Regions from separate parts of the Homo sapiens genome. Here region 2 is linked to region 1. Evidence: fine-mapped expression QTL. A gene starts in region 1. The other region holds a variant in brackets. All regions are shown on one strand. Distances are from middle to middle. Region 1 holds the start of SELENOI (selenoprotein I). Region 2 overlaps DRC1 (dynein regulatory complex subunit 1).

Region 1 (10,613 bases):
GCCTCATATCACACTGGGTCCCTCTGAATGTTTAAACTGTCTCTAGACTTCGAATGACTACTGACACTACTGGTTTGGTAGGTTAAGACCACAAAAATGGCCATAAAACCACTGAGAAGACCGGGCAAGGTGGCTCACGCCTGTAATCCCAGCACTTTGTGTGGCCAAGGTGGGTGGATCACCTGAGGTCAGGAGTTTGAGACCAGCCTGGCCAACATAGTGAAACCCCATCTCTACTAAAAATACAAAAATTAGCCAGGCATGGTGGCGGGCGCCTGTAGTCCCAGCTACTCAGAGTCTGAGGCAGGAGAATCGCTTGAACCCAGGAGGCAGAGGTTGCGGTTAGCCAAGATCGCGCCACTGCACTCCAGCCTGGGCAACAGAATGAGGCTCCATCTTGAGAAACAAACAAACACCACTGAGAAGCTAGTTGAGAATAAGTCACAAAATAGCAGAGACACCATCCTCCCCCAGCAACATAGGAAGTAGGAGGTATTAGCTTACGCTGAATCTCATTATATTGCGTAGACTTTTTCTGTGACAAAAATATGACTGATGACCCACTCATACAGTTCCCTTTACATTCTTACCTAAGAGGATTATGATTGAAAAATGTAAAATATAGCAAAAAACAGGCAAACAAAACCCCACTTGAGAAGATTTACTATAATAACTGGGGAGTTCCTTTTTGTTTTTTTTGGTAGAGACAGGGTCTCCCTATGTTGCCCAGGCTGGTCTTGAATTCCTGGGCTCAAGGGACCCTCCTTTCTCAGCCTTTCAGCATGCTGGAATTTGATTAAAAACTGACTTGTGAGCTGGGCGCGGTGGCTCACACCTGTAATCCCAGCGCTTTGGGAGGCTGAGGCGGGCAGATCACGAGGTCAGGAGATCGAGACCATCCTGGCCAACACGGTGAAACCCCGTCTCTACTAAAAATACAAAAAATTAGCCGGGCATGGTGGCAGGTGCCTGTAGTCCCAGCTACTTGGGAGGCTGAGGCAGGAGAATGGCGTGAACCCGGGAGGCGGAGATTGCAGTGAGCTGATATTGCGCCACTGCACTCCAGCCTAGGCGACAGAGCAAGACTCCATCTCAAAAAAAAAACAACTGACTTGTGATTTTTTTTTTTTAATATCTTACCATCAACTTGTAGAAGCATAGTGTAGTGGAAAATTATTCAACTAAAAGTCTGATGACCTGTGTTCCTCTTTCCTGGGTGACTTTTGGTAAGATATATTACTATTCTATTGTTCCACTCTATACAATTGGAACAGCCATCAGGCCCATGGCTCAGGATTGTTAGTCATGTGAAACTGCTTTGAGAACCAGAGTTTATGTGTATAAGGCATTCATTTTTATTTTAAAATGAGAACTAAATCAATACCTTTTTACAAACTTCTTTGGAAGACCCTGCCCATTTTTATGGCTTCAGTAACTTATATTGGAGTTATTAACTACATTAGTCCTTAATTAACCTCCAATATTTTTTGGCTGTCTCCATTTATCTGATACACTCTTATTCAGACTAAATAAAACAGGCACTCCAGGAACTTAAAACACTTTATTTTGGTTATATTATAAAAATAAAAATATTGTTTCTAGCACGAATTGATATTTTCTATGATTATTATTCTGGAAGGCAAAATGCCTGATCTTGAGTGTACAAGATGTAGAAGAAATAAACTTCAATGGATGAAGAGGCAGACATGGGAAACAAAGCAATAATAAACTACACTCAGGAATGTGGCGTGTAGAGCACAGATGGGAATAACAAGGCCAATCTAAAGCAGTCCGGGGCAGCTGGGCTGCCTTAGGGAAAAATGCCTCCTGGAATAAAATTTGGGAACGAGGAAACAGAAAGGTGACTTAGTTCCAAAGGCAAATTTGTTTCCATGACATTTTTCTCTTCCCACGTGACCATGCCTGCCGGGTTTAGGATTCACAGAATTCTGCGAAAATACAGTCATGCATCACTTAATGACAGGATATGCTCTGATAGTAAATACAAAAGCCAGTAAGACAGTTAGTTATTATCAAGTATTCAGTAGTGTACATAATTATATGTGCTATACTTTTAGATGACTGGCAGCGCGGTAGGTTTGTTTACACTAGCATTACCACGAACGTGAGTAATGCCTTGTGTTACAACATTTTGACAGCTAGGATGTCACTAGATGACAGAAATTTTTCAGCTCCACTATAATCTTAAGGGACCACATGTGGTCCCTCATTGACGGAAACATGGTTATATGGAGCATGACTAATATCTTAAATTTGTATGAATTTAATTGAACAGACTGGGGCCATATCATTGTAGGTAAGACAAGATTTCCCAGATGAGATGACTTAATCTCAGAGAAGTTATATGATATACAGTTTCACTGAATTTCAGAGATGAATAGGATCGTAGTACCTAATAGGTTCTAATGGATCGAATTAGATCTTAGGATCAAATGATCTTTTTTTTTTTTATTTTTTTGAGACAGAGCCTCGCTGTGTCACCCAGACTGGAGTGCAGTGGCGCGATCTCGGCTCACTGCAAGCTCCGCCTCCCGGGTTCACACCATTCTCCTGCCTCAGCCTTCCGAGTAGCTGGGACTACAGGTACCCGCCACCACGCCCGGCTAATTTTGTTTTTATATTTTTAGTAGAGACGGGGTTTCACCGTGTTAGCCAGGATGGTCTCGATCTCCTGACCTCGTGATCCGCCCGACTCGGCCTTCCAAAGTGCTGGGATTATAGGCGTGAGCCACGGCGCCCGGCCCAAATACCCTCTTTTTGAAAAAGAGTACTGGGGCTAAGTGAAGTAAGTTGTCTGAGATTACACAGCCAGTAACATGTCAAAGTATAAACCAATTTCTGGGTTATGCTTCAGCTTATAAATTATCAGATGAATTTATAATTGATTCAAACTTGTTACAACCTTATGCAGAGAAGCAGCAAATTGTAACTGCTTTCACAAAATTAAAAGTTACTGTTTTAAAAAGTGCTTTTAAAGAAAATATCAGAGGTAGAAAACAATTTTAAGAATCAATCATGTCATTTTGAGTTTGCTTATATCTGAACTGATAAACAATAAGTGCAGTTTATAAACTATTATTAGCTTGCACTGAAGTCACATTTTATGGCTTTCCACAATTAACTAAGTTTTACAAGTATGAAGGGTTTTTTTGGTTTTGTTTTTGAGACGGAGTCTTGCTCTGTCGCCCAGGCTGGAGCGCAGTGACACAATCTCGGTTCACCGTAACCCCACCTCCCAGGCTCAAGCGATTCTCCTGCCTCAATAACCTGAGTAGCTGGGACTACAGGCGCGTGCCACCACACCCGGTTAGTTTTTGTATTTTTAGTTGAGACGAGGTTTCACCATATTGTCCAGGCTGGTCTCAAACTCCTGATCGCAAGTAATCCCTCCACCTCAGGCTCCCAAAGTGTAGGGATTACAAGCGTGAGCCACCGCGCCTGGCCGAGACTCTCATTTCTAATGTTCTTCTCAAAACTGGTACTTCACAGCATATCAAAGAGATCTTTGCTCATTCATTCAATAAAATACGTTGATCATGTATTATTTGCAAGCCCCCTGGGTTATGGAACATGGGGAAAATTAAGATGTATAAGATGCAAATACTGCCCTCGAGGGCAAGTGTGATAAAGGACACTGAAGTTTATTGGTTGGCGGGCGCCCATTCTTCAAAAAATGCAAAAAATTTAGCCGGGTGTGGTGGTGTGCGCCTGTAGTTCTAGCTACTTGGGAGACGGAAGCAAGATCACCTGAGCCAGGGGAGGTCGAGGCTGCAGTGAGCCGTGATCACGTCACTGCATTCCAGCCTGGGTGAGTCAGTCCCTGTCTCAGGGGGCGGGGAGAAGCTTATTATCTACCATATACCAGGTATAAGATTATCTATTACTTTCTAAGAATCATGCTTTAGGAGGGGAGATTAGACATGTAGTAATAATACTGTGTTTGGCATATCTCGGGTCCCCAATAAATAGTTGTTAAACGAATGAACATAAAAGTATCTCAAAATAATCGCCCTTATTTCAGAGACCCAGAGAGACTGAAAGGCTCCCTGAAGTAGTGGTTTCCCATAACACAGAACTCATTTCATGTTGGGTCGATCATTTCCGAGCTTCGTAACTAAGTGACTCTGGGCAGGCTGCCTAATCTGAAAAAGGGGATAATGCCTTTCACTTCAGTGTTGTTATGGGGTTGATAATGTATGTGAAGTTCTCCCCACAGAAGGCGCTCAATAAAAAGCAGCAACTATTATAAAATTTTATTAGTAGATACTCACTAGCCATTGATCTAGTGTTTTTTGTTTGTTTGTTTGTTTTACAATTAACTGGGCTCCAGTTATGTAAAACACCTCTTGCAAACGCATTTAAGGACTCGTCGAGACTGAGAGATCACTGCTTTTATCTGGTCGGGAGACACCAGCAATCTTAATTTGGAACGGTTTGATAGAGCGGAGTGCGATGAGGCGGTCCAAGGTTCCTAAGCAACATAGACCTGAGGGGCTTGTCTCCAATGTCCTTTCACCTGTCTTTCAAGTCCCTCTGCTGACCGCACAAAGACTCCCGTGGCCCCGGCAGCAGCTCGGCCTTCTCTACATCTAACCACGTTTACTAAATTTCTACGGCACGCAGCGCACCGCACCAGGAGCTGGGAGCGGCTCGCGGTACAGACCTCCTTCCTCTTTTACTTCGCTGCAGCGGGAGAACTAAGTCCTCTTACCTGAGGCACTGCTGAACTGGTTCGCAAGCAGTCACTCTACCCCCAAGACTAAAACGGTATACCCCAGATCACCACGCAAGTGCGGATACCACAGAAATCCCACCTTCCCCCGGGACCGGGAGCAAAGCCCGCTGGGAAATTGACCTTTCACCCCCTCTCTTGCCTTACCTCAGCTCACCAATTTTGACGCTAGCAAATGAAGCGACGAAGAGAGCTGGAAGGCGGGACTTAGTGTTGCCTGATCCACGCCGATTGGACAACAGCAGTGTCGGGGGACGGGCCGCTCGAGCGGGCTAGCAACCCCCCCTCGATGGGCGGGGAGAAGCGTGGGCTGCGCTTGCGCACTGAGAGGCGGCCGAAGGGGCCGAGGCGGCTACGCGTGCGCGGTGGGCGGAGCGCGGCTCTCCTACCTTCTCGGGCAGCCCAGTCTTTGCCATCCTTGCCCAGCCGGTGTGGTGCTTGTGTGTCACAGCCTTGTAGCCGGGAGTCGCTGCCGAGTGGGCGCTCAGTTTTCGGGTCGTCATGGCTGGCTACGAATACGTGAGCCCGGAGCAGCTGGCTGGCTTTGATAAGTACAAGGTACCGCGGGCCGGCGGATGCCCCTCTCCCTGCTCCCGGCCTCGCCCAGGCGGCTGAGGGGCCCGCGCGGCGCGGTCCGTGTCACCTTGTGCCGCGTGGCTCCGGGCGGGCTGGCGGGCGTTCCTCCGGAGGTCCTGCGGGTCCTGGGGATTGGGGGTCGGGGAGCGTGGGAGCATCCTAAGCCCGCCGCCCGTAGTCGGCACCCCCCGGGAGATTTCCTTTTCCTTAGGAGAGCGCTCAGTGATCATGGAGCGAGGGAATTCCCTTCCTATTTTTTTTAAACTTATTATTTTCGTAAGCCCCCGAAAGGATGGAGTTCCTTCTGTTGTGTCAATCGCCTTCATTTTAGTGAAGTTTCCACTCGCCTGTCATGCATACAACTTCGGAGGAGGAGATGATCGTTTGGCAGATGAGGCCCGGGAGGGGAGCGACTTGCCGATGCCATCCTGCTGATGTCTCCACTTCTGCTCCCGGCAGGGACTTCCTAAGCGGCAGCTTGTGGCGCTAGGGCCACCAGATGAAAGGGAGGTGCACAGGAAGGAGCTGTGGAGTGGAAAGAGCGCGGGCTTTCGAGCACATACAAACCTGATTACAAAAGTCAGATTTCTTTATTTCGTCTTGGGCACGTCATTTTAACCCCGCTCAGCCTCTCTTTTGTGTATGAAACTGAAAGTAATAGCTTCTGCTGTGCAAAATGATTAGAGGAATTTGTGAAGCGCTTGGCAACATACTAGGACCCCAGTAAATAAATGCGGGTGGTTAACTTTCCTCCAAATCTGGTTCCCATCCGCAGTTCCTTTACCAATGAATGACTCTAACCATCCAGTCGACCAAGCCTGAAATATGGGCTTTAACCCTTCATCCTTGTTGTTACCCGTTCATCTTCACATCTTAGCTTAAATATTGCTTCCTCAAAGAAGCCCTCCCTACGTGCCCCTTTCCCCCTTAAATGTGCGCTCTGTTCGTTTATGGAATTGCTGCTTTAGCGTGTCTCGCCATTAGAATATAATGCCCAACTCATTAGAGTTTTCTTGTGGACCATCATGGCTTAAGCACAGTGCTATGTGCATACTAGGCACCCAGTAAGCATTTGTGGAATGAATGAATAACTGAAAAAGTCATAATGGATTTTGTTTAACTCGAGTTAAAAAAAAAAAAAGCAAGGGTCCTTAGAAGGTCACATAGCATGTTTCTCTGCTTTCAAGCCGTATTGTGCCATACCATTCTGAACCGAGGTGATGACTTGTCTTAACATTTTAAGTGGAAAGAGGGTCCAGAGCCTTCTTGGTAACTCGGGCCAGTGCTTTTCAACTTTCATTTTAGAAGGCTGTTAACCCAGATACCTCCTGTTTTGCCTTAAGCTCTACTCCCCTTTTGTTGTCTGTTCTGCAGGGTAAATATTGACATATAAAACATTTTCTTCCTTACTAGGGTCTGACTTTCTAAGTGCCAATAAAATAGCTATTTCAATGGGAGCAGTGTTTATAATAGGAAATCTCCTTTTTCTTATAAAGAATCTTCCCTAGATTTATATTTTCAACTAAATAAGTGTCTTAATTTACTAGAAGTTTCGTGTAATTTTCTGTTCTGATCTTTCCCCCTTTTTTATTATATAAGTTCCTGTATCTGACAGCAGATGACTTCCTATCATCCTGGAAAACAAAGGTCGATTTAGCAAGCGTCCAATGTTCACTAAAATAGTTTGTTGATATCATTTTAGTTATAATGAGGCTTCCTTGGGGAAAAAAAAGCACACATTTATAACCTAAATATTCTTCTATTGCAATTACTCAATACTGCATTTATATTAAAATTATGAATCCAGTGGTATCCAAAGGAAAAATCCATGGGATCAGTTTTGCTTGAACACAAATCTCACAGATCTTTTTTTCTTATCGTTGCGTTCCCCTTATGTTGTCTTCAGATAGTAAGCGCTTTATAAATGCTTATTTTAAAAAGTCTTTTTTCCCCATAAATGGGTAAAGATTGAAAACACTCAAAAGATATTTTGTATTCCCTCATGTGATGCTTTATAAGAGGGATGTAAAGAAGAACTGACACTACAAAAGCAGTTGGTGGAAAAATTACTTTTGAAGTAGTTTAATTTATCTTCCCTAGAGGTATATCTGAGAGCTACAGTTGGAAACCTGACAGATATACAGAATAACTGCTGAAAGGGGTGCACACGGGGAGTGGAAATTAGGTTTCTGAAGCAGGAAACTATAAGACAATTGATTTTTGGTATGGAAGAGCGTGGGATGGATTCTGTGTTATGTATTGACACTTGCATTCGCTATTGTGTTACTTAACGCAATTGTATTAAACAGTTAGTTGACTATTAGTTGAATGTCTACTTTCTCTTTTAGGACGTGAGCTTTAAGAGGGCAGGCCCTATGGCTGACTTTTTTTTTTTTTTCTTTAATAACATGACTGAGGTCTAGCACAGTACCATGAACAGAGTAAGTGCTAAACAAATATTGAAGGAATGAGAATGTAAAAGAATCAACCATTTTGGAAGTATGGTTAAAAAAAAAAAAGGAGCTCTATGTCTGGATATTGAAAGGGTGCTTTTGTATTTTAAATGTGAAGATATCAGGTTTAACTGCCATTGTTCTCTGTTGCTTATTAACTAAGGTAACTTCAGAGAATTATACTGAAGGATTTCAGCCTTATTTTTGCCTCTACCCATCCTTTGTTTTGGACAGGCTTTTTTTTTTTTTTTTTTTTTTTTTTTTTTTTTTTGGAGATGGAGGTTTGCTCTTGTTGCCCAGGCTGGAGTGCAATGGCGCGATCTCAGCTCACTGAAACCTCCGCCTCCTGCGTTCAAGCGATTCTCCTGTCTCAGCCTCCCGAGTAGCTGGGATTACAGGCATGCACCACCTCACCTGGCTAACTTTGTATTTTTAGTAGCGGTGCATTTCTCCATGTTGGTCAGGCTGGTCTCGAACTCCCAACCTCAGGTGATCCGCCCTGGCCTCCCAGAGTGCTGAGATTACAGGCATGAGCCACCACACTTGTCTTTTTTTTTTTTTTTGAGATGGAGTTTTGCTTTTGTCGCCCAGGCTGGAGTGCAGTGGCGCGATCTCAGCTCACTGCAGCCTCCGCCTCCCGGGTTCAAGCAGTTCTCCTGCCTCAGCCTCCTGAGTAGCTGGGATTACAGGCGCCTGCCACCATGCCCGGCTAATTTTTGTATTTTTCTTTGAGACAGGGTTTCACATGTTGGCCAGGCTGGTCTCGAACTCCTGACCTCAGGTGATCCACCCACCTCGGCCTCCCAAAGTGTTGGGATTAAAGGCGTGAGCCACCGTGCCCAGCCCTTGGACAGGTCTTTATAGTTGAGGGATTTTTCCCCACTTATCTAAGGGTGAAACTGCAAGTTGGTTTTTTTTTTTTTTTTTTTGTCCTGGTTTGCTCATCATTTGGGAAGGCAAAGTTTTAATTGATAGTGTAGCAGCTACTTTGAAATTGTATCATTTTGCCTAAGGGAGGAAATATTCTGTGAAATATCTTGTTTGGTTGGTTCGAGAAAGTTATTTGTCTGGGCACAGTGGCTCATGCCTGTAATCCCAACACTTCCGGAGGCTGAGGTGGGAGGATGGCTTGAGGATAGAAGTTGGGCAACATAGTGAGACCTCATCTCCACAAAAAAAAAAAAAAAAAAAAAAAAAAATTAGCCAGGCATGGTAGCACGTGCCTATGGTCCTAGCTACTTGGGAGGCTGAAGTGGGAGGATCAGTTGAGTCTGGAAGTTGAGCTGCAGTGAGCTATGATTGTGCCACTGTTTTGCAGCCTGAGCAACAGAGAAAGACCCTGACTCAAAAAAAAAAAGTGTGTGTGTATAAATATATATATAGTTTCATGATGAACTGGTTTTTGATATTATGGTAATTAATTAACTTGGCTCTCAACAACAGCCTGATTATAGGAATCATGATAATTGTGAATTTATTAGTATTACAATTAGAGGTGGTAAAGAGAGATTGTGTTTGCATCTTAATGGTAATACTAAAGAACCAGAATCTGGCCTTTAACCTTACTAGTTCCTGAAAATTTCATAAAAAATTATTTTCATTCTTATCTTTTTTTAGAGACAGGGTCTTGCTTTGTCGCCCAGGCTGGAGTGCAGTGGTGCGATCATAGCTTACTGCAGCCTTGAATTCCTCAGGTGATCTTCCTCCCTTGGCCTCACAAAGTGCTGGGATTATAGGCAGGGGCCACCGTGCCTGGCCATCATACAGTTTGATTTTGTTTATTCAACAAGCATTTATTGAGGGTCTACTCAGTGTCAGGCATAGCATTTGGGCTGCAAAATTAAGCTAAGTTGAAATTCTTGTCTTCAAATAACTCAGTTTGGTGGCATGTGAACATGTAAATGAACAGTTATAAAAAGTTAATAAGTCCAGTTAGGCAAGTGCTGGCTGCTATGGAAGAGGAGAGGAGGCAGCTTCCAGGGAGTGGGAGCTAGAGTTGAGAAAGCCTTCAGGGGATGGAGGTGAAGGCAAAGCTCAGTCTAGAAAGATGAATATGTATATTTATATTATATAGAGAGAAGGAGAGAGAGAGAGATGCTGCTCCATTTATGATGGGTTTCTGTTCCTGATAGACCTATTGTAGTCAAAAATACATTTAATACACTTAACCTACTGAACATCATAGCTTAGCCTAGCCTACCTTAAATGTGCTCAGAACACTTAGATTAATTCGCCTGTACTTGAGCAAAATCATCTGGCAGTGCAGTAGAGAATTGGTTGTTCACTGTTTGTTTGTTTTTTTTTTTTTTTTTTTTTGAGACGGAGTCTCGTTTTGTTGCCCAGGCTGGAGTGCAGAGGTACAATCTCGGCTCACTGCCACCTCCACCTCCTGGGTTCAAGCAATTCTCGTGCCTCAGCCTCCCGAGTGTCTAGGATTACAGGCACGCACCACCACACCCGGCTAATTTTTGTATTTTTAGTAGAGACAGGTTTCGCCATGTTGGCCAGGGTGGTCTTGAACTTCGGACCTCAGGTGATCCGCCTGCCTTGGCCTCCCAAAGTGCTGGGATTACAGGCATGAGCCACTACACCTGGCCTGTTCACCCTTGTGATTGCATTACTGACTAGGAGCTGTGGCTCGCTGTGCTGCCCAGAATTTTGAGAGAATATCATAGCACTTTCTACCGAATGCGTGTTGCCTTTGCACCATCGTAAAGTTGAAAAATTACGAGTGAAACTGTCATAAATCAGACTGTACTACCAGGTTAAGAGGGGAGAAAGGCATTATGGAACAAGAGAGCAATGGAGTGTAAAGTGATGAAGGCCTCGGT
Region 2 (10,613 bases), 77 kb after region 1:
CACAGGGTATAGATGGAGCTTGGATGTGCAGTTGGGGAAATCCGCATGCCTGCAGGACAGAGCTGGGGGTGGGCTGGGAGCTGTGGCCAGAGGCAGGCTCTTCCTTAGCCACCCAGTTATCAGTAGAACTCTGAGGTGTGTCTGAATTCAAACTAGGACTTTTAAATTGTCATAAAGGTATTGTGATAGGAGGATATATATAAAATATAGTTTAAATATATATTATATATTAATAATATACAATATATTATAAATTATATATAATTTATATATAATATATATTATATATAAATTATATATAATTTATATAATATATAAATTATATATAATATAAATTATATATAATTTATATAATATATAAATTATATATTATATAAATTAAATATAATTTATATTATATATAAATTATATTTAATTTATATAATATATAAATTATATTTAATTTATATATAATATAAATTATATTTTTATATATTATGTATAATTTATATATTTATACATATATACATTATAATATATTGTATAGTATATATAATATATAGTATATATAAAGCATATTATATATTATATATACAACATTATATATTATATATATTATATTATATATATATTTTGAGACAGAGTCTCACTCTGTCACCTAGGCTGGAGTACAGTTGCATGATCTCAGCTCACTGCAACCTCCACCTCCTGGGTTCACGCGATTCCCCTGCCTCAGCCTCCCAAGTAGCTGGGACTATAGGTGTGCACCACCATGCCTGGCTAAGTTTTATATTTTTAGTAGAGACGGGGTTTCACCATGTTGTTCAGGCTGGTCTTGAACTCCTGGCCTCAGGTGAACCGCCCGTGTTGGCCTCCCAAATTGCTGGGATTACAGGTGTGAGCCACCATGCCCGGCTGAATGTTTTATTTAACAATTTTTACATGATACTATAATTTAAAAATATTTAGACATATGGTATGTGGACCTCCATTTAAATGCTTTCCCTGGATCTCATAAAGGTGAGGGGCATTTTGGTCTGTTGGTGGCTGACATTTGGATTTTTAATTTTACTTTGAGTCTTAAATACTTGATTCAGAAATTTCTGGAACTCCAGTAATTGGTTAGCACATGGTACTTATACAGAACTCTCTGATGTTCACATTGAGTAGAAACTAGAAAATAACCCCAAACTGCAGGAAAGCCATTACTTCCTTATGCACGTAAAACCATTTTGTACAAGTGATAAAACTGCAGGCATTAACAAAAAATCTAGAGTGCCCTGGATATCTGGGTTAAAGCTCTGTTCTGTATTCAATGAAACTACATTTCAAATTTTTCATATAATAGTGAGATCAAGTGAAGTCTCTGGTCATTTCTGTGACTCCTTGGTGTAGAAGTTTTATAGGTTCCTAGTTTAAAAATTATTTGAGAGTTGGAGAGTTCATAAGTTCCAAAAAGACTTGAAAAAACTTAGGCATAACCTAAGGATACTCGAACTTTTTGTTGAGAGGATTTATCATCTTGAATAACATCACAACAAGGCTAGGAGTGAAGATACTGGAGATGGAATTTACGAAGAGGGATTTAGAAGGATGGCACCAATTACAAAATCCCTGAGCCCATTAAGGAGACAGCAGTGCAGCCAGCTACAATCTTTTCCTGCCTTAGAATCCATGTAATGAAAGACTCCACATATCATTAGCTGCAGCAGGACAGAAGCTTGTTTCTCTGTCTCAACAGTTCCGAGTATAAGTAGTCCAGGGCTCACATGGATGGGGTCTGCTTGATGATGGGACCTCAGCTCCCTCTGCCATTGCTTGAGTTGCCTTTATCTGCTCATCACCTTTTACTTGAGCCCCACATGCCAGCCTGGGAGAAGGGGCAGAAGTGGGGCAGCAGAGGGTACACCTTTTCCCCTTAAAGTCACAATTCAGAAGTGGCACACATTACTTCTCCTGTGTCACTGATCAGATAGTATTCTAGGTGCAAGGGAGGCTGGGAAAGGTACCTATTTTGGGAAGCCACATCCCAGCAAAAATTTGAGTGTTCTGTTACTAAAAGGAGAGGGAGAAATGGACATGGGAGCACAGCTGTCATTACCTGCCTCACTGTCATTATCTGCCTCACTGTCATTATCTGCCTCACTGTCATTACCTGCCTCACCTCCCCAACTGAGGTTCTTCGAAAGGCTCCCGGCAGTGTCAGTCACTTGGAGATCTGCTGGGGACAAGGCTGAGATGAATGTACAATATCTGCTGGTATAAAAGTTGGCTGGTGCCTTCTCTACAGTGAATAAATAAAGTACATTGAGAACTGCAGAGTGCTTTTTTTAAAATTTTTTATTTTGCCCAGGATTGGACAAAAACTTACCACAGTAGGATACTAATGATGCCCTTCTAGCCAAACGCAGTGGCTTTTCTCCAGGCCTCATCATATTATGACTGGATACTGGACTTTTCTTTCTCTTTTTCTTTTTTCTTTCTTTTTCTTCTTCTTTTTTTTTTTTTCTGAGATAGGGTCTCACTTTGTTGCTCAGGCTGGAGTGTAGCGGCGTGACCTTGGCTCACTGTAACTTCTGCCTCCCAGGTTCAAATGATTCTCCTGCCTCAGCCTGCTGAGTAGCTGGGATTACAGGCACCCGCCACCATGCCTGGCTAATTTTTGAATTTTTAGTAGAGATGGGGTTTCACCATGTTGGCCAAGCTGGTCTCGAACTCCTGACCTCAAATGCTCCACCCACCTTGGCCTCCCAAAGTGCTGGGACTACAGGCATGAGCCACTGTGCCTGGCCAAGAACTGCAGAGTGCTTTTAAATTGTGAGCTGTAAAATCACATCACAAATGTCCTGATAGAAAAGGGTTGCTACACAGAGGCTACTCTTAAAAATCTTAAGGTAGTTGCTGCTTCCTGCTTGAATGGATAGAAGCTGCGGACAGTTGTGCAAAAATGTTTCAGACTTTATATATTATTTACAAAGTGTTCTAGCTTTGTAAATTCTTATATCTCTCTTTTTAGAAATTGGCTAAACTTCTGCTCTGTGGCACCGAGTTGGTGACAAATATCCAGGTGGCTATAGATATCAGAGAGATTCACAGGAGAGTCGAAGAAGAGGAGATAAAGCGTCAAAGGTAAGGACTGTGCTACTCTGCAGCTGGTGGACATGAAGGTAATCTCCATGGGTCCGGCAGTTCTCCCGAATTGTTGGAGGGTGACTTTGTCCACCTTAGACAATTCCCTTCCTGCCCTTATAACTTCTCCCTCCCTCCCTCCTCTTCTTTCTCTCTCTTTTTTTTTTTTTTTTTTTTGAGACAGAGTTTCGCTCTTGTTGCCCAGGCTGGAGTGCAATGACGTGATCTCGGCTCACCGCAACCTCCACCTCCCAGGTTCAAGTGATTCTCCTGCCTCAGCCTCCTGAGTAGCTGGGATTACAGGCATGCGCCACCAAGCCAGGCTAATTTTGTATTTTTAGTAGAGACGGGGTTTCACCATGTTGGCCAGGCTGGTCTCGAACTACTGACCTCACGTGATCCACCCGCCTTGGCCTCCCAAAGTGTTGGAATTACAGGCGTGAGCCACCGCGCCCGGCTATCTCATCTCTTTTCTTTCCTCCCCTCCTCAAGCACTACATTGCTGATACGTGCCAAGCTGTGTGTATACAAAAGGAGTGAAACACGGCCTCTGTTTGTGGTATTCACAGTCTAGTCAAGAGACACATGGAAACACCCATAATTCGTGGTAAAATAGATAATGTGTAAAGGGTTGTAGTAACACACACAAGGAGGCCTTTAATTCTATCTGCAGAGATTACAGAAAACTTCCCAGGCAAGGTGACGTTGAGCTGGGCTGTGAGGGATGAATAGGAATTTGAGGAATTGAAGAGTAGGCATTTTAGGCAGAGGGAACACTTGAGCAGAGGTGTGAGATCACATGATGTGCTTGGGAATGGCATGATAGCGAAGGATGTATGCGGGTAATGGAAGAAAAGAGAAGAGGCTAAGAAGGTCAACTGGGCAGTCCTGGGTTTCAATTGGTGAGAATGACCAGACCCACGAATACCTCAGTGTTATGTGTAAAGGTGGCAGCATTATTAAAGAATATTGAGGGCTCCATGCATAGAAGGATGGAGGTTCACAGGGATCACAAGAACCTGCGTCAAGTCCTCAGCTCCAGTCCTCAGGAGGCAGGCTGCCCTGCACGCCCATGTCCCAGGTCTCAGGCTGTCCAGCAGGGAGGCATAAGCGGCTTAGAAGAATTAAACTTCTTTGGTTTGCACACAGAAGTAGACTGATAGCAGGTCCTCATTTAAGCTTTGGATTGTTCTTCAATTAATTTCTTAAACAATTAGAAGAACAACCACTTGGCCAGGCACGGGGTGGCCCACGCATGTAATCCCAGCACTTTGGGAGGCCGAGGAAGGCGGATTGCTTGAGGTCAGGAGTTCAAGACCAGCTTGGCCAACATGGTGAAACTCCGTCTCTACTAAGAACACAAAAAATTAGCTGGGTGTGGTGGCGCGTGCACACCTGTAGTCCCAGTACTCAGGAGGCCGAGGCAGGAGGATCACTTGAGCCCAGGAGGTGGACGTTGTAGTGAGCCAAGAGTGTGCCACTGGACTCCAGCCTAGGCAATGGGAGTGAAACCTAGTCTTTAAAAAAAAAAAAAAAAAAGGCAACCACTTGACCATTTTGTCTCATCATATACACACAGGGGTCGATTTTAACAATATTTTTAGTTGTTCAGCATAAGCAGTTCCCTCTTTAGCAACTTTAGCAGCCCTACCAGTAAACGTGGGTGACTTTTATTCTCGAAACTTCCCACTGCCTGTATGGGCTGTGCCAGGAATGGAGTCGGCAGATTCCCAGCAGGGTCAGCTTGTGAAAGGCAGGGAAGGTCATGCAAGGAGTTAGGCCTTGTCCTCTAGCCACAGAGGAATGCTGAAGGTCCCAGGTGGCAGGTTACAAGGTCAGTGTGCTGCGGAAAGATGACCTGACAGCTCTTTCTCATTTCTTGAAATAAAAAAGTCAATTAAATTAAAAAAGTGTCCTAGCTTGGAAGGTGGGGTGGGTGGGGGATGGGACAGGAAGAGGGGATTGCAGGATGTTTAAGCTGTGACTTCGGTTCCTCAGGGGGTTTGTTTGGAGGTGCTCTCATAGGATTAGTCTGTTACAAGGAGCAGAGAGTCTCTGGCAGATATCTTAGCCACTGTTCCCAGAGGGGCCCCAGCTCAGCTCTCCTGCCTTCCTGCCACCTCGCCCCAGCCTCGGTGTGCTCTATCACGGAGGTTCTTTGGAATTTATGGAAAGGCTGTCCCTATTTTCCATCACTCATTGGTGGAGTTTCCATATTTGTACATTCCACTAGTCATTTATTGGTAACTTGGGAGAGGAGTAGCCAGACACTTGAGGTCATGTTGCTAATATAAAATTGATAATTTAAGCACCATGTGTTAAGTGACTCCCATGCTGAGCACCTGTGCTGTGTGCAGCATCTTATTTCATCCTGACAACAGCCAGCCACTTGAAGGTAGATACTTTTCATCCA[C/T]GCCATTTTACAGAAGAGAAAAGTGAGGCTTGAGGGAGTTATGCAACTTGTCCGAAAGGTTGACAGTCAGTTAGGAGCCAAGTCAGGACTTGAACATAAGCTCTGTGACTCCAGAGACCCAGTGTTTAACTGTTGTGTGTTATCATCTTACTCAGAAGCAGGTGACCAATCGATCTTGGTGTGTGTGCGTGTGCACGCGTGTGTATGTGTGTGTGTGTGTAGCCTTAATGTTGATCTGTTTTTGCTATGTGTCATTTTCTTTACTTGGCCTAAGTTATTTACAGTCAAGCGTTAAACGAAAAGATTTCTCAGCATTGAGTTTGATTTTGGGCGGGTGTGTTTGGGCAGTGCCTAGTACCTGGGTCTTATATTCTAGAGATTCTAGAGAACGTACCTGCTCTACTGGAAGGCAGCATCTGGAGCTGGGTTGGCATGGCTGGCATGTATGTATTTGCAGGATTGAGAAGCTGGAGAATGAAGTTAAGACCAGCCAGGACAAATTCGATGAAATCACCTCAAAGTGGGAAGAGGGCAAGCAGAAGAGAATTCCCCAAGAGCTGTGGGAAATGCTCAATACCCAACAGCTGCACTGTGCTGGACTCTTAGAAGATAAGAATAAACTCATCAGCGAGTTACAGCAGGCAAGAGGCCCGGGCCCTCCAGCCCAGCCACAGGGGATCTGCCTGGGATTTAGCTGGGTTACTGGTTTGCTTTTCCTGAATGGAAAAATGTAGAAACCTTTTACTTCATTATTTAGAATGCTGTACAAGTCATGTTATAAACTTTTTTCCATGATGGTAAGAAACACATAGCATTAAATTTGCCATCATAACCATTTTAAAGTGTATAGTTCATGGGCTGGATGAGGTGGTTCACTCCCATAATCCCAGCATTCTGGGAGGCCGAGGCAGGCGGATAACTTGAGGTCAGGAGTTTGAGACCAGCCTGGCCAACATGGTGAAACCCCATCTCTACTAAAAATATAAAAATTAGCCGGGCATGGTGGCACATACCTGTAATCTCAGCTACTCAGGAGGCTGAGGCAGGAGGGTCGCCTTAACATGGGAGACAAAGGTTGCAGTGAGCCGAGATCGCACCACTGCACTCCAGCCTGGGTGACAGAGGGAGTGAGACTCTGTCTCAAAACAAAAACCAAAAAACTGTATAGTTCAGTCATGTTAAGTATACAGCATTCAGATGCAATAGATCTCTAAGAACTTTTTCATCTTGCAGCATGGAAATTCTATGCCCCTTAGACACCAATTCCCTCTTCCACTTCCCCCTAGACCTTGGTAATCACCTTTCTACTTTCTGTTTCTGTGATTTTGACTACTCTATTAGATACTTCCTGTGAGTGAAATCATACAGCATTTGTCCTTTTGTGACTAGCATATTTGGCTTAGTATAGATGGACTTCGTTGTAGCACGTGACAGGACTGCCTTCCTTTTTAAGGCTGCGTAGTATTTCATTGCATATATATACCACATCTTGTTTTATACATTCTCCTGTGAATGGACATTTGGGTTGGATTTCACGTTTTGGCTTTTGTGAGTAATGCTGCTATGAACATGGGTATACACGTATCTCTTTGAGATACTTCTTTGAATTATTTGGATGTATACTTAAAAGCAGGATGGCTGGGTCATATGGTAATTCTATTTTTAATTTTCTTAGGAACCTCCATACTGTTTTTTATAATGATTGCACCATTTTACATTCCCACCAACAGTACACAAGGGTTCTAACTTCTCTGTATTCTCACTAACACTTACATCCTGTTTTTTTGATAGCTTCCGTGTTGATGGTGTGAGGCGATATCTCATTATGGTTTGGATTTGCATTTCCGTAACGATTAGAGATGTTGTGCATGTTTTTCATGTGTTTATTGGTCACTTGTATATCATCTTTGGAGAAATGTCTATTTAAATCCTTTGCTTATTTTTAAATTGGGTTGTTTTTGAGTTATAGAAGTTCTTTATGTATTTTGGACATTAACCCCTTATCAGATATATGATTTTCAATTATGATTTCCTATTCCGTATATTGCCTTCTTAGTCTTGATTTTTTTTTTGATGTGCAAACATTTTTGAGTTTGGTGCAGCCCCGTTTGTCTATTTTTGATTTTGCTGCCTGGGATTTTGGTGTGATATCCAAGAAATTATGGCCAAATCCAATGTGCAGAAAGCTTGTCCTCTATATTTTCTTCTAGGAGTTTAATAGTTTTAGGTCTTTAATCGATTTTGAGTTATTTTTGTATATGGTATAAGGTAAGGACCCAACTTCATTCTTTTGCCTGTGAATATCCAGTTTTCTCAACATCATTTGTTGAAGAGACTATCCTTTCTCCACTGTATAGTCTTGTCAAAAGTCATTTGACCATAGATGCAGGGGTTTATGTATCATTCATTTATCATTTTGACCCTTGTCAAAGCCATTTGGTCATATATGTAGGGGTTTATTTCTGGGCTCTCTAGTTCCCTTGGTCTATATATCTATTTTTATGTCAGTACAACATTCTTTAATTCCTGTTGCTCTTTGCAGTTTTGTTTTTGTTTATTTTTTTTTTTTTTGAGACTGAGTCTTGCTCTGTCGCCCAGGCTGGAGTGCAGTGGTTTGATCTCGGCTCACTGCAACCTCCGTCTCTAGGGTTAGAGCAATTCTTCTGCCTCAGCCTCCCGAGAAGCTGAGACTACAGGCATGCACCACCATGCCTGGCTAATTTTTGCATTTTTAGTAGAGATGGAGTTTCACAATTTTGGCCAGGCTAGTCTCGAACTCCTGACCTCAGGTGACCCACCTACCTCAGCCTCCCAAAATGCTGGGATTACAGATAGGAGCCACTGCGCCCAGCCTGTAGTATGTTTTGAAACCAGGAAATGTGGGGCCTCCAACTTTGTTCTTTTCTCAAGACTATTTTGGCAATTTGGAGTCTCTTGAGATTCTGAATTTTACAAATTTTAGGATGGTTTTCCTATTTCCACAAAAAATGATGTTGGGATTTTGTTAAGGACTGCACTGAATCTATAGATCACTTTGTATAGTATGGACATTTTTAACAATATTGAGTCATCCAGTTCATAAGCACAGGATATCTTCCATTTGTTTATATCTTCTCTGATTTCTTTTAGTAATGTTTTACAGTTTTCAGTGTACAAGGCTTTTGCCTACTTTGTTAAGTTTATTCCTAAGTATTTCATTCTTTTTGGTGCTATAGTAAATGGATTATTTTCTTAATTTCTATTTTGGATTGGTCATTATTTGCATATAAGAATGCAACTGATTTAAAATTTTTTAAACATTTAATTTAATTTAATTTTTTTGAGACAGAGTCTCGCTCTGTCACCCAGGCTGGAGTGCAGTAGACTGATCTTGGCTCACTGCAACCTCCACCTCCTGGGCTCAAGTGATCCTCCTGCCTCAGCCTCCCAAGTAGCTGGGATTAAAGCGCACATCACCATGCCCAGCTAATTTTTGTGTTTTTAGTAGAGATGGGATTTCACCACGTTGCCAAGTCTGGTCTCAAACTCCTGACCTCAAATTACCCACCCACCTCCACCTTCCAAAGTGTTGGGATTACAGTTGTGAGCCACCGCACCTGAGCTTTTTTTTTAAATTTAAAATTAAAAAATTTTATGGGTAGGTGTATATATTTATGGGGTATATAAGATATTTTGATACAGCCATACAATGTGTGATAATCACATTGGGGTAAATGGGGTATCCATCACTTCAAGCATGTATCATTTCTTTGTGTTGCAAACATTCCAGTTATACTCTTTTAGTTATTTTAAAATGTACAATAAATCTAGCTGACCTTAGTCACGCTGTTATGCTGTCAAATACTAGATCTTATTCATTCTAACTATATTTTTGTGCCTATTAACCATCCCCATTCCTCCCTGACCCTCCACACTACCCTTCTCAGTCTCTGCTAACTATCATTCTACTTTCTATCTCCACGAGTTCAATTGTTTTAATTTTTAGCTCCCACAAATGAGTGAGAACATGCAAAGTTTGAATTTTTGTGCCTGGCTTATTTCATTTAACGTAATGCCTTTCAATTCCATCCACGTCGTTGCAAATGACAGGATCTCATTCTCTTTTATGGCTGAATAGTACTCCCTTGTGTATAGGTACCACATTTGCTTTATCCATTCATCTGCTGATGGACACTTAGGTTGATTCCAATTCTTGGCTATTGTGAATAGTGTGATTTTTGAATTTTGATTTTGTGTCCTGCAACTTTGCTGAATTTAAGTTCTAACAGGTTTTCCTGTGTGTGAAATCTTTAGTTTTTCTGCATATAAGATCATGTCATCTGTGAACAAAGATAATTTTAACTCTTCCAATTTTGATGTCTTTTCAAGGGATAAACTTTTAACTAGAAGTAAAAGCTTTGTCATAATTGTAGAATTATTAGCTATCTAATAGAAATACAGTCATGCATCACTTAATGATGGGGATATATTCTGAGAAATGCATTGTTAGGTGATTTCATTGTTGTGAGAACATCATAACATGTGCTTACACAAACCTAGATGGTATAACCTACTACACACCTAGGGTATATGATATAACTAATTGCTCCTAGGCTACAAACCTGTCCGGAATGCTACTGTACTGAATACTGTAAGCAGTTGTAACGCAGTGCTAAGTATTTGTGTATCTAAACAGAAAAGGCACAGTAAAAATACCATATTATGGCCGGGCACGGTGGCTCACGCCTGTAATCCCAGCACTTTGGGAGGCCGAGGCAGGTGGATCACGAGGTCAGGATATCGAGACCATCCTGGCTAACACGGTGAAACCCTGTCTCTACTAAAAATACAAAAAATTAGCCAGGCATAGTGATGGGCGCCTGTAGTCCCAGCTACCCGGGAGGCTGGGGCAGGAAAATGGCGTGAACCCGGGAGGTGGAGCTTGCAGTGGGCCGAGATCGAGCCACTACACTCCAGCCTGGGCAACAGAGCAAGACTCTGTCTCAAAAAAAAAAAATACCGTATTATAATCCTATGGGACCACTGTCGTATATGTGGTCCATCATGGACTGAAATGTTGCTATGCAGCACATGACCGTAGTATTTTTACAGC

Evidence for each region. PIP is the estimated chance that this variant, and not a neighbour inherited with it, causes the effect.
Region 2: its variant is the best candidate, but not a certain one, in a credible set for the expression of SELENOI in whole blood (INTERVAL, PIP 0.66).

Annotation. Positions count from the first base shown.
Region 1 is chr2:26,340,979-26,351,591 of GRCh38, forward strand. SELENOI (selenoprotein I) reads left to right here and starts at 5,165. Exons shown (of 10, transcript NM_033505.4): 1 at 5,165-5,311. The coding sequence starts at 5,255. It overlaps ADGRF3 (adhesion G protein-coupled receptor F3), which reads right to left and starts at 5,811. Exons shown (of 14, transcript NM_001321971.2): 1 at 5,143-5,811. The coding sequence starts at 5,256. RefSeq lists enhancers at 4,630-4,769, 5,090-5,857, 5,970-6,069 and silencers at 4,980-5,209, 5,260-5,319, 5,380-5,429.
Region 2 is chr2:26,418,293-26,428,905 of GRCh38, forward strand. DRC1 (dynein regulatory complex subunit 1) reads left to right here. Exons shown (of 17, transcript NM_145038.5): 3 at 2,996-3,108; 4 at 5,979-6,162. Among named protein-coding and RNA genes, the nearest start is that of DRC1, 22 kb to the left of the region's middle. The variant C/T (reference allele first, on the strand shown) is at 5,522.